3 linked regions of the Homo sapiens genome follow. Each later gene encodes a partner of the first gene's protein in a complex. Each region holds a gene or a part of one and is shown in the gene's direction. Other genes may lie near its edges. The genes, in order: SENP1, SUMO2 and SUMO3.

The links.
Region 2: the proteins of SENP1 (region 1) and SUMO2 are in contact, whole or in part, in a crystal structure (PDB 2IYD), measured with the Homo sapiens proteins. Residues at the interface, in NP_001254523.1 of Homo sapiens: Asp441, Glu446, Phe448, Arg449, Leu450, Thr451, Lys455, Asp456, Trp465, Leu466, Asn467, Asp468, Glu469, Asn472, Asn494, Thr495, Phe496, Lys500, Arg511, Trp512, Lys514, His529, Gly531, Val532, His533, Trp534, Gly600, Ser601, Asp602, Cys603; in NP_008868.3 of Homo sapiens: Gly24, Gln25, Arg56, Arg59, Arg61, Phe62, Asp63, Gly64, Gln65, Pro66, Asn68, Asp71, Asp82, Asp85, Phe87, Gln88, Gln89, Gln90, Thr91, Gly92, Gly93.
Region 3: the proteins of SENP1 (region 1) and SUMO3 are in contact, whole or in part, in a crystal structure (PDB 6NNQ), measured with the Homo sapiens proteins. Residues at the interface, in NP_001254523.1 of Homo sapiens: Gln440, Asp441, Glu446, Arg449, Leu450, Thr451, Lys455, Trp465, Leu466, Asn467, Asp468, Glu469, Asn494, Thr495, Phe496, Lys500, Arg511, Trp512, Lys514, Lys515, His529, Gly531, Val532, His533, Trp534, Gln597, Gly600, Ser601, Asp602, Cys603; in NP_008867.2 of Homo sapiens: Gln24, Ser53, Arg55, Gln56, Arg58, Arg60, Asp62, Gly63, Pro65, Asn67, Thr69, Asp70, Gln74, Glu76, Asp84, Phe86, Gln87, Gln88, Gln89, Thr90, Gly91, Gly92.

The regions. Positions count from the first base shown.
Region 1 is NC_000012.12:48,103,996-48,107,738, reverse strand, and holds the start of SENP1 (sentrin-specific protease 1), read left to right. Parts: upstream 1-1,692; 5' UTR 1,693-1,711; exon of another isoform or gene 1,712-1,928; coding exon of another isoform or gene 1,929-2,129; exon of another isoform or gene 2,130-2,285; coding exon of another isoform or gene 2,286-2,337; exon of another isoform or gene 2,338-2,386; intron 2,387-3,743. Other genes in the region: PFKM (ATP-dependent 6-phosphofructokinase, muscle type), read right to left, coding at 284-374, 1,929-2,129. UniProt on the Homo sapiens protein: Protease that catalyzes two essential functions in the SUMO pathway.
Region 2 is NC_000017.11:75,176,248-75,179,990, reverse strand, and holds part of SUMO2 (small ubiquitin-related modifier 2 isoform a precursor), read left to right. Parts: intron 1-3,743. UniProt on the Homo sapiens protein: Ubiquitin-like protein that can be covalently attached to proteins as a monomer or as a lysine-linked polymer.
Region 3 is NC_000021.9:44,815,879-44,819,621, reverse strand, and holds the start of SUMO3 (small ubiquitin-related modifier 3 isoform 1 precursor), read left to right. Parts: upstream 1-1,559; 5' UTR 1,560-1,653; coding exon 1,654-1,674; intron 1,675-3,743. UniProt on the Homo sapiens protein: Ubiquitin-like protein which can be covalently attached to target lysines either as a monomer or as a lysine-linked polymer. Does not seem to be involved in protein degradation and may function as an antagonist of ubiquitin in the degradation process.

The DNA.
Region 1 (3,743 bases):
AACAACACAATAATGACAAGCTCATGGGATAAATTTTGTTCCCCCCTCAACTCTCAAGTCCTCCTTATCTGCCTGGCATCTATCACAACAAACCAGGTCAAAATCTTACCTGGAAAATACACGACTCAGTGATCAATATTTTATCAAAGTGAGAATGTGATAAACAAGGTCAGTTGACCCCTAAAATCCGTATTTACACTAGAAAGCCTCACATCCTGTATTTAGACTTCTTGTGAGAGAACCCATTCTCTGTCACTGGAGTATGATCAGGAGACAAGGGTACCTGTTCTCTGAGGAGTCCTGACTAACTGGCGAGACTGAATCACACACATGAAAAATTTCAGATGAAACTCGTCTTTATGCATGGCTGCCTCCTAGAAATAGAGACAGAGTTTAATCCAAACGAACAGAGCTGTGAAATAAGATGTCAGTGACTGACATGGACCAGCTACACTCATGACTACTTGGCCTTAGGACTTGACAATATAATATAAAAGTATCAGCACATGAGGCAATACAAATAATCTACTTTGATGTATTTGACAGGGGAGGAAACCCTGAACTCAGCAAGCTGCTGAGAGTATCAGAAAGGCTGGGGGCCTCCAGAAACTGCCCTTCTTTAAGTCTGAGCTCAGACTGTGCCTGTGGCTGTGATCTGGGTGTAAAGGACCTATTAAGGGGGCATTTCTCTAAGACTTCTACAGGGCCTGGGTCCAGAGGCCTGCCAAGCTGAGGTGCTTGACAAAAAGCCTGAATGAACAAACATATTTCTTCCCATTATGTTCTCTTAGAAAGTATGGCAGATTCCAGGTTAATCAATGTGTCCCAGGAACAACAAAGCCCTTCAAAGGTCACAGGTGATTCCTGGGTCCTTCTCTATCTCTACCCAGAAAAGCAGATCTCTAGTGGGCTCCCAAAAGCTTTCCTCACAGCTCTGCCTGTTTCAAATTCCTCCAGAGTTCTGGAAGGTTCTACATCTTGCCAGAGTCTAGCCTAATCCGTCCTCAAGTTGCTTGTTTGTTTGTTTGTTTGCTTGCTGAATGGTCAATCAAGTATGAGGTGGTGCAGAGTACAGGATTGCAAGTTAAGAAACTTGTTTCCTAGTCCTAGATGGGCCGTGCACTTAAAACCTTTGGGAAATCACTTCACTTCTCTGAACCTGGTAAGACTAAAGTATCTCCAATAACCTCTACAAGCACTAACGTTCTGTGATTCTCAATAAAACACGAGATAGCCTGAGATCGATTTAGATCTCAGGTCCCTATCTGTCGGGGGAAGCCACAGGTTTCCGCAGATTTAGGGCCACCGCGAAAAGCTGCCATGGAAACTGGAACGCAAGCAAGCAAAACTCGCCGGGCGGAACCAGAAGGCGGCGGGTAAGGGAGCAGAGGGAACAGAGAAAAGCATAGGACGAAGGGCTCACTAACAGTATTCCGAGTACGAGAAAGCGAAAAAGCCCAGACTGAAAAGGGTACTGAGAAATTACGACTAGTCTTAAATGCTCCCTTCGCTTCTCGGGCCTCGCCACACCGCGCAGGCGCCCCACTGGTCCTTAACTCTGTTCTTTGACCTCCTGCCCCAGCCCCCTCCTCTTCAGCCACCTAGCGACTCTTCCGGTGCTGTGAAGGCGGTTCCGGTTCGCGGCGGTTCCCGGGTTTTGCGTTCCGCGCCCGGCCGGAAACCCCTTCGCATGGCAGCCGGTTCCGGTTCGGTGAGTGGCGGCGGGAAGCTGGGGGAGGGGTGAGGATGGAGGGAGCCTGGTCCAGGAGACTGTGTCGGACCCGGTCAGCCGGCCCGGGCTGGACTGGGCGGAAGCGGGGAGCACTGTGGGGCCGGCGCCTTTTCCTCTGCCCCGCCCCCTGGGACCACCTCCCCTCCCCCCTGCTGTCCGGTGGCCGCGCTGTGGCCGCCGGTGGCCGTTAGGCTACCTGAGGCCGTTCCTTCTGGTCTCTCTCTCCTGGGCCGCGGAGAGACCGTCTCCCTGCCGTTACAGCAGGCCCCATCCCAGCGCCCAGCCGTACTTGGGGAAAGGCCGGTTGCGATTCCGGGGCTTTCCCGCCAGAGCTGGGTCTTCTCTGGGGAGAGCTGTTTTCACCGGGAAGCTCGGCTTTCTGTGGTACCGGCTTCATCTCCCGCCTTCCTTGAGACCCGAGTGATATTTCTTGACTACTTCTGCGTCTCACGTAAACATTTCTCCAACTCTCCTACTCTGTGGTATCTCCCTGAGATGTGATATCGCTAGTGCCACCATCAGAAAGAAACGTCTGGACCCTCCTGCTCAGGTTATGAAAATCCCCTTAACTGCCACAATTTGCTTACCTGGCTCATCGCCTCCTGGTAATTCCCTTGAACCGTCTCTTTCTTGGTGTACCCTAACGTGATCTCTGGATCTATGCCTCGTTTCTCTTTCCTTGAGCTTGGTGATTTCTGTTTATCGGTGCCTGTGCAGTATTTCCACTATCTTGTTAGCAGTAACTTGCTTCTTTATCACTTTCAAGTCAGCCTTGTTAAAGTCATTTTACTTCATATTTGGTACACTTATTATATTTGGAGTGGTGGTGATTCTTGTAATATTCATATAAAGCCTTTTATCTACTACCAACTATTTGACTGAGGGTCTTTGTTATAATTGGTTATTCTGGATGTATTAGATCTCATCATCTCCTAAATCTTTATTCTTCATAAAAATAATTTGTGTTAAGGACTCATGTTGAAATACAGATTACCCTGACTTTGAAATTACAGTTAAAGCGCAACTTTAAGCATCTCTATAAGCATGATCCCTTAACCTACTTCCAGTTTACACTCTACCACCCTTTATTTTTCCTCTCTAGTCCCTTTTAGGAAGGCTTATTCATTTTTAACTGACTTCAATTAATTATCCCAACTGCAAAGATGGTCTTCATGTCACTCATCTAATGAGTTGTCTAGAGGGAGTGGATGGGTACAAAAACAGGTTCTGCTACTTCTGGCTAAGGGAATGCAGTTGTTGACTTGCATTGCGGCTTTGGAACTCTTGTCCTTTTCTTCCCAACTTCTACATCTTCTATCAGTTGTACCAGCTCTACTGTCTTGCGGTACCTGTTTATGGATCTGGCTTTCCCTACTGGACAGTGAGCTGCTCAGTGGCAGGGACCCTTTCTTAATGCACGTAGTCGGTGCACAGTAAATGAATGTGTATGAAAGAATTTGAACACTTAGGGTTTACGGCGTTAGAGTGTTAAGGTATTTAAGGTGTTAGAGTGATTGGGAGAGATTACATGTAAAAATAGAAGGAAAGAACCTCAAACACATGACGATATAGTACAAACTATTGTACACATAATTGTTTTTCAGAACTTGGAAAAGGGTGATTTCACATGGTTGCTTTCACACCCTTCTTATATCATAAATTGTTCTAACCACATCTTGGTCCTGGATAAAGCTAACATTGCGTCTCTCTCTCTCTCTCTCTCCCTCCCTCCGCCCCCCCCCCCCCCCCCGTCTCTCTCTCTCTCTCTCTCTATATATATTTTTTTCTTCTTTTTTTAGACAGAGTCTCGCTCTGTCACCCAGGCTGGAGTGCAATGGCTTGGTCTTGTCTCACTGCAACCTCCGCCTCCCGGGTTCAAGCGATTCTCCTGCCTCAGCCTCCCGAGTAGCTGGGATTATGGGTGCCTGCCACCATACCTGGCTAATTTTTGTATTTTTCGTAGAGACAGGGTTTCACCATGTTAGCCAGGCCGGTCTTGAACTGCTGACCT
Region 2 (3,743 bases), on another chromosome or scaffold:
TTTGAGTTTATACTTGAAAGATCAGTGAAGATAAAAACTTCCTTTAGGCCTGATGCAGTGGCTCATATCTGTAATCCCAGCACTTTGGGAGACTGAGGCAGGTGGCAGTTGACATCAGCCTGGCCACCATGGCAAAATCCCATTTCTACTAAAAATCCAAAAAAATTAGCTGGGCGTGGTGTTACACGCGCATAATCCCACCTACTCCGGAGGCTGAGGCTGAGAATCCCTTGAACCTGGGAGGTGGAGGCTGCAGTGAGCCAAGATCACACCACTGCACTCTAGCCTGGGTGACAGAGCGAGAGCATTTCAAAGGAAAAAAAAAAAAAAACTTTAGAATGTTTGAAGTATTTTTATGCCTAGTGTATTTACAATGTAATAAGAAAATACTGTGCTCATAATTGATATGTAAACCTTCTTGTATGTAGTTCCTTATAAAGATACCTTTTTTTTTTTTTTTTTTGAGACAGAGTCTCGCTCTGTTGTCCAGGATGGAGTGCAGTAGTGCAATCTCGACTCACTGCAACTTCTGCCTCCCGAGACCAAGCGATTCTCCTGTCTCAGTCTCCCGAGTAGGTGGGACTACGGGCGCACGCCACCACGCCCAGCTAATTTTTGTATTGTCAGCAAGATGGGGTTTCACCATATTGGTCAGACTGGTCTTGAGCTCCTGACCTCAGGTGATCCACCTGCCTCATCCTCCCAAAGTGCTGGGATTACAGGCGTGAGCCACTGTGCCCAGCAAGATACCATATACTCTTATTTGAAGAATTTTGCTGAAATCACCCTACATGAACTTATGAATTGTGTTAAATAATTTATAAACTGGCATCTTCTATATTTGAACACTAGTGCCCCTTCAGGATACAGGGGAATTTTAAAAGGTAATCCTTTTGGAGAACTTCTTTAGCAAAACTGCATACAAAATAGAAAATCATAGGCTGGGCGTGGTAATCCAGCACTTTGGGAGGCCAAGGCTGGAAGACCAGTCTGGACAACATAGTAAGACCTCATCTGGTTTTTTTGTTTTGTTTTGAGGTGGAGTTTTGCTCTTATTGCCCAGGCTAGAGTGCAGTGGCGCAATCTCGGCTCACTGCATCCTCCGCCTTCCAGTTTTAAGCGATTCTTCTGCCTCAGCCTCCCAAGTCACTGGGATTACAGGACCTCGTGAACCACCCGCCTCAGCCTCCCAAAGTGCTGGGTTTACAGGCATGAGCCACTGCGCCTGGCCCAGACCTCATCTCTTAAAAAAAAATTAGGTGGTTGTGGTGGCACATACCTGTAGTCCAGGCTATTTCAGTGACAGAGGTGGGAGGATTGCTTGAGCTTGGCAGGTCTAGGCTGCAGTGAGCCATGATCTCATCGCTGCACTCCAGTGTGGGTGACAGAATGAGACCCTGTCTCAAAACCACAAACAAACAGAATCATGCTTCAGTTTGGTGGTTTTGAACAGTATTCTTTTCTTTTTTTTTTTTTTTTTTGAGAGTCTCGCACTGTTGCCCAGGCTGGAGTGCAGTGGCACCATCTCGGCTCACTGCAACCTCTGCCTCCTGGGTTCAAGCGATTCTCCTGCCTCAGCCTCCCAAGTAGCTGGGACTACAGGTGCGTGCCACCGTGCCCAGCCAATTTTTGTATTTTTTGTAGAGACGGGGTTTCACAATATTGGCCAGGATGATCTCGATCTCTTGACCTCGTGATCCGCCTGCTTCGGCCTCCCAAAGTGCTGGGATTACAGGTGTGAGCCACTGGTGCCTGGCCTTGAACACTATTCTTATGCATATCTTATTTAACTTTTCTGCAATTGCAAAATTTTGCCTTTTTTTTTTTGAGACAGGCTTTTGCCCTGTTGCCCATGCTGAAGTGCAGTGGGAGGATTATGATCATGGCTCACTGCATCCTCTGCCTCCCAGGCTCAAGCAGTCCTCCCACCTCAGGCTCCCAGGTAGTTGGGACTATAGGCTTGTGCCACTGGGCGATTCTTTTTTTTTTTTTTTTTTTTTTTGAGACGGAGTCTCGCTTTGTCGGTCAGACTGGAGTGTAGTGACATAATCTCGGCTCACTGCAACCTCCACCTCCCGGGTTCAAGCAATTCTCCTGCCTCAGCCTCCTGAGTAGGTGGGATTATAGGCACCTACCACCGTGCTCGGCTAATTTATTTTTCGTAGAAACGGGGTTTTACCACGTTGGCCAGGCTGGTCTTGAACTCCTGAGCTCAGGTGACCCACCCGTCTCGCCACCTCGGCCTCCCAAAGTGCTGGGATTACAGGCATGAAGCACTACGCCTGGCTTTTCTTTTCTTTTTTTTTTTTAAGATGGAGTTTTCCTCTTGTTACTGAGGCTGAATGCAATGGCGCAATCTAGGCTTACTGGAACCTCCGCCTCCCAGGTTCCAGTGATTCTCCTGCCTCAGCCTCACAAGTAGCTGGGATTACAGGCATGCACCACCACGCCTGGCTAATTTTGTATTTTTAGTAGAGACGGGGCTTCACCATGTTGATCAGGTTGGCTGCTCTGAAACTCCTGACCTCAGGTAATCCACCTGCCTTGGCCTTCCAAAATGTTGGGATTATAGGCGTGAGCCACTGCACCTGGCCACCATGCAAATTTTTTAATTTCTTTTTTTTTGAGATGGAGTCTTGCTCTGTTGCCCAGGCTGGAGTGCAGTGGCATGATCTCAGCTCACTGCAACCTCTGCTCCTGGGTTCAAGCAATTCTCCTGCCTCAGCCTCTTGAATAACTGGGATTACAGCGCCTGCCACCTAGCCTGGCTAATTTTTTGTATTTTTATTTATTTAATTAATTAATTTTTTTTTTTTTTTGAGACAAGAGTCTCGCTCTTGCAATGGCACGATCTCGGCTCATTGCAACCTCCACCTCCCGGGTTCATGCAATTTTCCCCCCTCAACCTCCGGCTGGAGTAGCTGGGACTACAGGTGTGTGCCATTGTGCTCAGCCAATTTTTGTGTTTTTAGTAGAGACGGGGTTTCACCATGTTGGACAGGCTGGTCTCGAACTCCTGACCTCAGGTGATCTTCCACCTCAGTCTCCCAAGGTGCTAGGATTACAGGCGTGAGCCACAATACTTGGCCTTTGTTTTTAAGTAGATGATGGTTATATACTGTTTTTCATCCCTTTTATGCCACTGATACTTACTGAGCAGCACCTACTATGTGCAAGGGATAGACTGTGTAACTAAAACAGTCTAGGTTCCTATATCTCCTGAAGTGTGTTTTTTAGTAAGACAGTAAGTAATTACAGATTTGGGTAAGTATTAAAGGAAATTAAAAAGCGGTGCTTTTTTAAAGCTATTCCAGGAAGTTCAAGGGTGTAGGTTGGGGCATTTTAGGTCGGTTTTGTTGTTGTTGTTGTTGTTTTTGATATTGAATCTGGTCTGTCACCCAGGCTGGAGTGCTAGGGCACGATCTTGGCTCACTGCAAACTCCGCCTCCCAGGTTCAAGCGATCCTCCTGCCTCAGCCTCCCGAATAGCTGGGATTACAGGCGGATGCCACCACACTCGGCTAATTTTTGTATTTTCAGTAGAGGCGGGGTTTCACCATATTGGCCAGGCTGATCTTGAACTCCAGACCTCAGATGATCTGCCTTGGTCTCCTAAAGTGTTGGAATTACAGTGTGAGCCCCCGAGCTCAGACTGGAGTCTTTAAATGGGCATTTTTTTCCTTTAAATTTCCTGTTAGTGGCCAGCCAGGCGGATCACGAGGTCAGGAAATTGAGACCATCCTG
Region 3 (3,743 bases), on another chromosome or scaffold:
AGCTGCGTGTTTCTCACTTCCACAACACTGAAGCGGGCTGCCGTCATCCACAGCCTGCCGGAGTTTAGTGTGTCTGTGCTACCTACGGTCGTGTTGTTTTATGATTAACGGTGTCTTGGAGTCGATAACTCTCTGAACCCTGCCTGCCCTAGGGCACTTCCAGGGCCAGCAATCTGTGGGCTCTGAGGCGCCACGTCCCCTCGGAAGGGGCTGGTTGCGGAGCCCCCTCCCAGGACCGTCTGAGCTGGCCACCCACCTCCACATCCTCTGCTGAGGCCCTGGGCTCCAGGTTCCAGAAGGAAGGGACCACACCTTATGACCTGCCTGGGACTGGGGCTGACTCTCAGACCCTCTCCCCGAAAGACTTCAGCAGCCTTCCCCCTCCTAAGTGGGGGCTCTAGCCAAGAAAGTGAATTTTTGAGTAGAAGACGGTTTGTGAAGTTATGGTCCATGAAGACTTGTCTCCATGGCTTTGCGACGTTGCTCAGTTGGCTGAGCCTTTCCCAGGCAGGACAGAAACGGCTCAGACGCTTAGGTTCAAATCCAGGCCCTGCCATTTCCCAGCTGAGCCTGAAGTGCGGCCTCCCCCGCCTTCGGCCGGGCTCACCATCAGATGAGACCTCCGCCACGCCCCGGCTGGCACCACCCGGGCACTCCTGAGGGACGCAGGGGTGTCCGCCCTCAGGTCCGTTCCATCCGAGGCCCTGGGATCACAGACATGGAGGCCGGGGCGGGCCAGGCACCCCAGGAATGGCGCCCGCAAGTCCGGGGAGGCCGTCCTGCCGGCCCAGCGCGTTTCCCGCGTCCACGAGGTCCCCGTTCCGCCGGCACTGGCGGCGTCCAGCCTGGGTTTGCCCGCGCTCGCCGACGTGGCGGCCTGGCCAAGCTCGGCGCCGCTCACCAGCGCTGACCTGGGGGTGGTTTGACCTCCCAGTGCCTCAGTTTCTTCACAGGTAAAACGGGTCTTCTTGAGGACGGGTGTGGAGGGCCCGGGGCAGCCCCGTAGGAGCGTTGGCCAAAGGAGCCCGGCCTGGGGCTGACAGGAAACCGCGGCGGCAGGGAGGCGGGTGGCGCCCCCAATCGTCTAGGGTGCTGGCCCGATTCGCGCGGCCCCCGCGGACGGGACCCCGCGGGCCGCCTTCTCCGCTCTGTCCGCGGCTCCTGAGAGGGAACGTCACCCCCAGCGTCCTCCCTCCTCCGCCCCAGGTCCCTGCGGCCATGGGCGGCGGCCCCGGCCTCACTTCCCGGCGCCCCAGGAACGCGGCCCCCAGGAAAGGAGTCGGGGCCCGGGCGACGCGGGGAGGCGGGCAAGGGTCCCCAGGGCCCGGGCTCCCCGTAAACGCTCCTGGCCCGCGCCCCACAGCGCCCTAGGGCTTCCGCGCCCGACGGGGTCGCGCGGGACCCGCCCCGTGACGCATCTCCAACCGCCCAGAGCCGCGGCCCGGCCTGCGCGCGCCCGACGCCCCGGGGAGCGCGCCTCGTGAACGCGCGCAGCCACGTGACCCCCGTGCCGGCCAACGGGTGCGCCGGGATTTGGGGGATAAAGCGCGGCCCCGCGCACAGTTGCGGCGGGAGAGCGGCGGGGCCGAGAGCGTGACTCGCCCGCTCCGCGCTGCTTCCCCCGCGCCGCCTCCCCGCGCCGCTCGCGCAGCCATGTCCGAGGAGAAGCCCAAGGTAAGCGCGGCGACCCCGCCTGCACGCGCGTCTATCGCGGGCGTCCCGCCCCCAGCCCGGCTCCGCCCCCACCCCGACTCCGCCCCGCGTCCCGCCCCTGACAGGCTCCGCCCCTCCCCGCCCTCTAGAGCCCCGCCCCTAAGTGGGCCCGCCCAAGGTGCGCCCCCTCTGCCCCCGCGAAGCGCGCTGTGCCGCGAGCTCCGCCCCCTCCGGGCCTGGCCACGCCTCCGCTCCACGCCCGTCTCCTCCCCAGCTGGGAAGGCGCGCGCCCAGCGCCTCCTTGAGCGCCCGGTGTCGGGCCCCGCGCTGCTGCTCCTGCAGAGCGCGGCGCCCTCGGATCCCGCCCCAGCAGTGTCCCCGAAGCGTCTTTGCGTGCTCCTCTCCTGAGTCATTGCTGGTTGGGGTCGCCCTCTCCCCCGGCATCGCCCTGGGTGCGGGATCCTGTGTCGAGTGCACGGAGTCGGCTCGGGAACAAGCGTCTGGGGTTACCCCCAAGGGGCGCGCTCTGAGGGGCCTGGCCCCTGTGAGCAGCACTGCCGTCCTTCCAGGGCGCCCATCGCGACCCCGGTATTCACCCACTTCTCCGCATCGTGTCCCGGCCATCGCGTCCCCCAGTGTGCGCCCACCCCTCTCCTTCGTGTCTCCCCAATCGTGCCCTCAGTGTGCACCTACTCCCACCCATCGCGCCCCGTGTGCACCCACCGCCTCCATCGCGTCCCCCGGTGTGCGCCCACCCCTCCCCATCGCGCCCCCCGGTGTACGCCCACGCCTCCCCATCACGCCCCCCATGGTGTGTACCCACTCCTCCCCATCATGCCACCTGGTGTGCGCCCACCCGTCCCCATCATCGCGTCCCTGGTGTGCGCCCACCCCTCCCTATTGCGTCGCCCTCTCCATCACACCCCCAGTGTGTGCTCACCCCTCCCCGTCGCGTCCCCCAGTGTGCGCCCACCCCTATCCATCGCGTCCCCCTTTCCATCACACCCCCAGTGTGCGTCCACCCCTCCCCATCACCCCCTCCACGATGTGCGCCCACCCCTCCCCATCACGCCCCCTATAGTGTGTGCCCACCCCTCCCTATCACGCCCCACGGTGTGCGCCCACTTCTCTGCATTGCGCCTCCCCCACCATGCGCGCCCACCCCTCCTTATCCAGCCTTGGGTGGGCTTTAGTCTCCCCCATTGCCATGCTGGGGTGTGCCTCCCTCCAGTCTCAGTCCTGGGGTATGCACCCTGCATTCAGGTGCACTGGCCATTCCTTCTCGGGAGGGTCTGTAGTCGCATTCTCCAGTGTTCATAAAAAGAGAACCTTTCCGAAGCCCTTGGTGTGCACTGTCGGCCTCTATGTTACATCCCAGTGGAAGATGACTAGAGCTGAAGGCTCTGTAAAGAGGCTGTCTCTGATACTGGCCTGGTCCTGGAGGTGACCACCCTCCCTTTACAGATGAGGGTGGAGGCTCAGTGCCAGACACTGGCGGGAAGTGGGATGGAACCGTCAGGAACCATGGTCGCGGCCTCTATGGAAGTCTGCACTCTGCTTGCTGTGGTCAGACTCCAGGGAAACCTGCCCTATCCAGATGGCATTTGGGGTGACCTTTGCTTTTTACATTTTGACTCCAGTGAAGTCAAAGTTCTCCCACTCTGGGGTTGTTTGAATATTTAAATACTTGTTAAAACTAGGTCAAATATAAATGTCCTTTATGTTTTTGTAGGTGGCTTCCTCTTAATGAAGAGTAAATGTAATAAAATACATATGATATTAATTTTCTCAGCAGTATTTACACTTAGCTCTGCCATGTGGTCAATCTCAGGCTCCAGTTCCGTTGAAAACACTTGTTTAATTCCAGAATGACTGAGTGGCTGCCACCTCACAGGCCCCGCTTCTGGTGGGTCCCCTCTGAGCCCATGTGGGAGCAGCTCTGCCCTCTGGGGCTCTGACGAAGGGGAAGAGGTGGACTCTGGGGCCCGGTGGTGCTGGAAAGAAGAGCTTTTAGGTCAGGCAGGAGAATGGTTCTGACTTCCCTGGATAGCTGAGGTGGAGGATTGACTGTAGCAAACTGAGGCCCATGT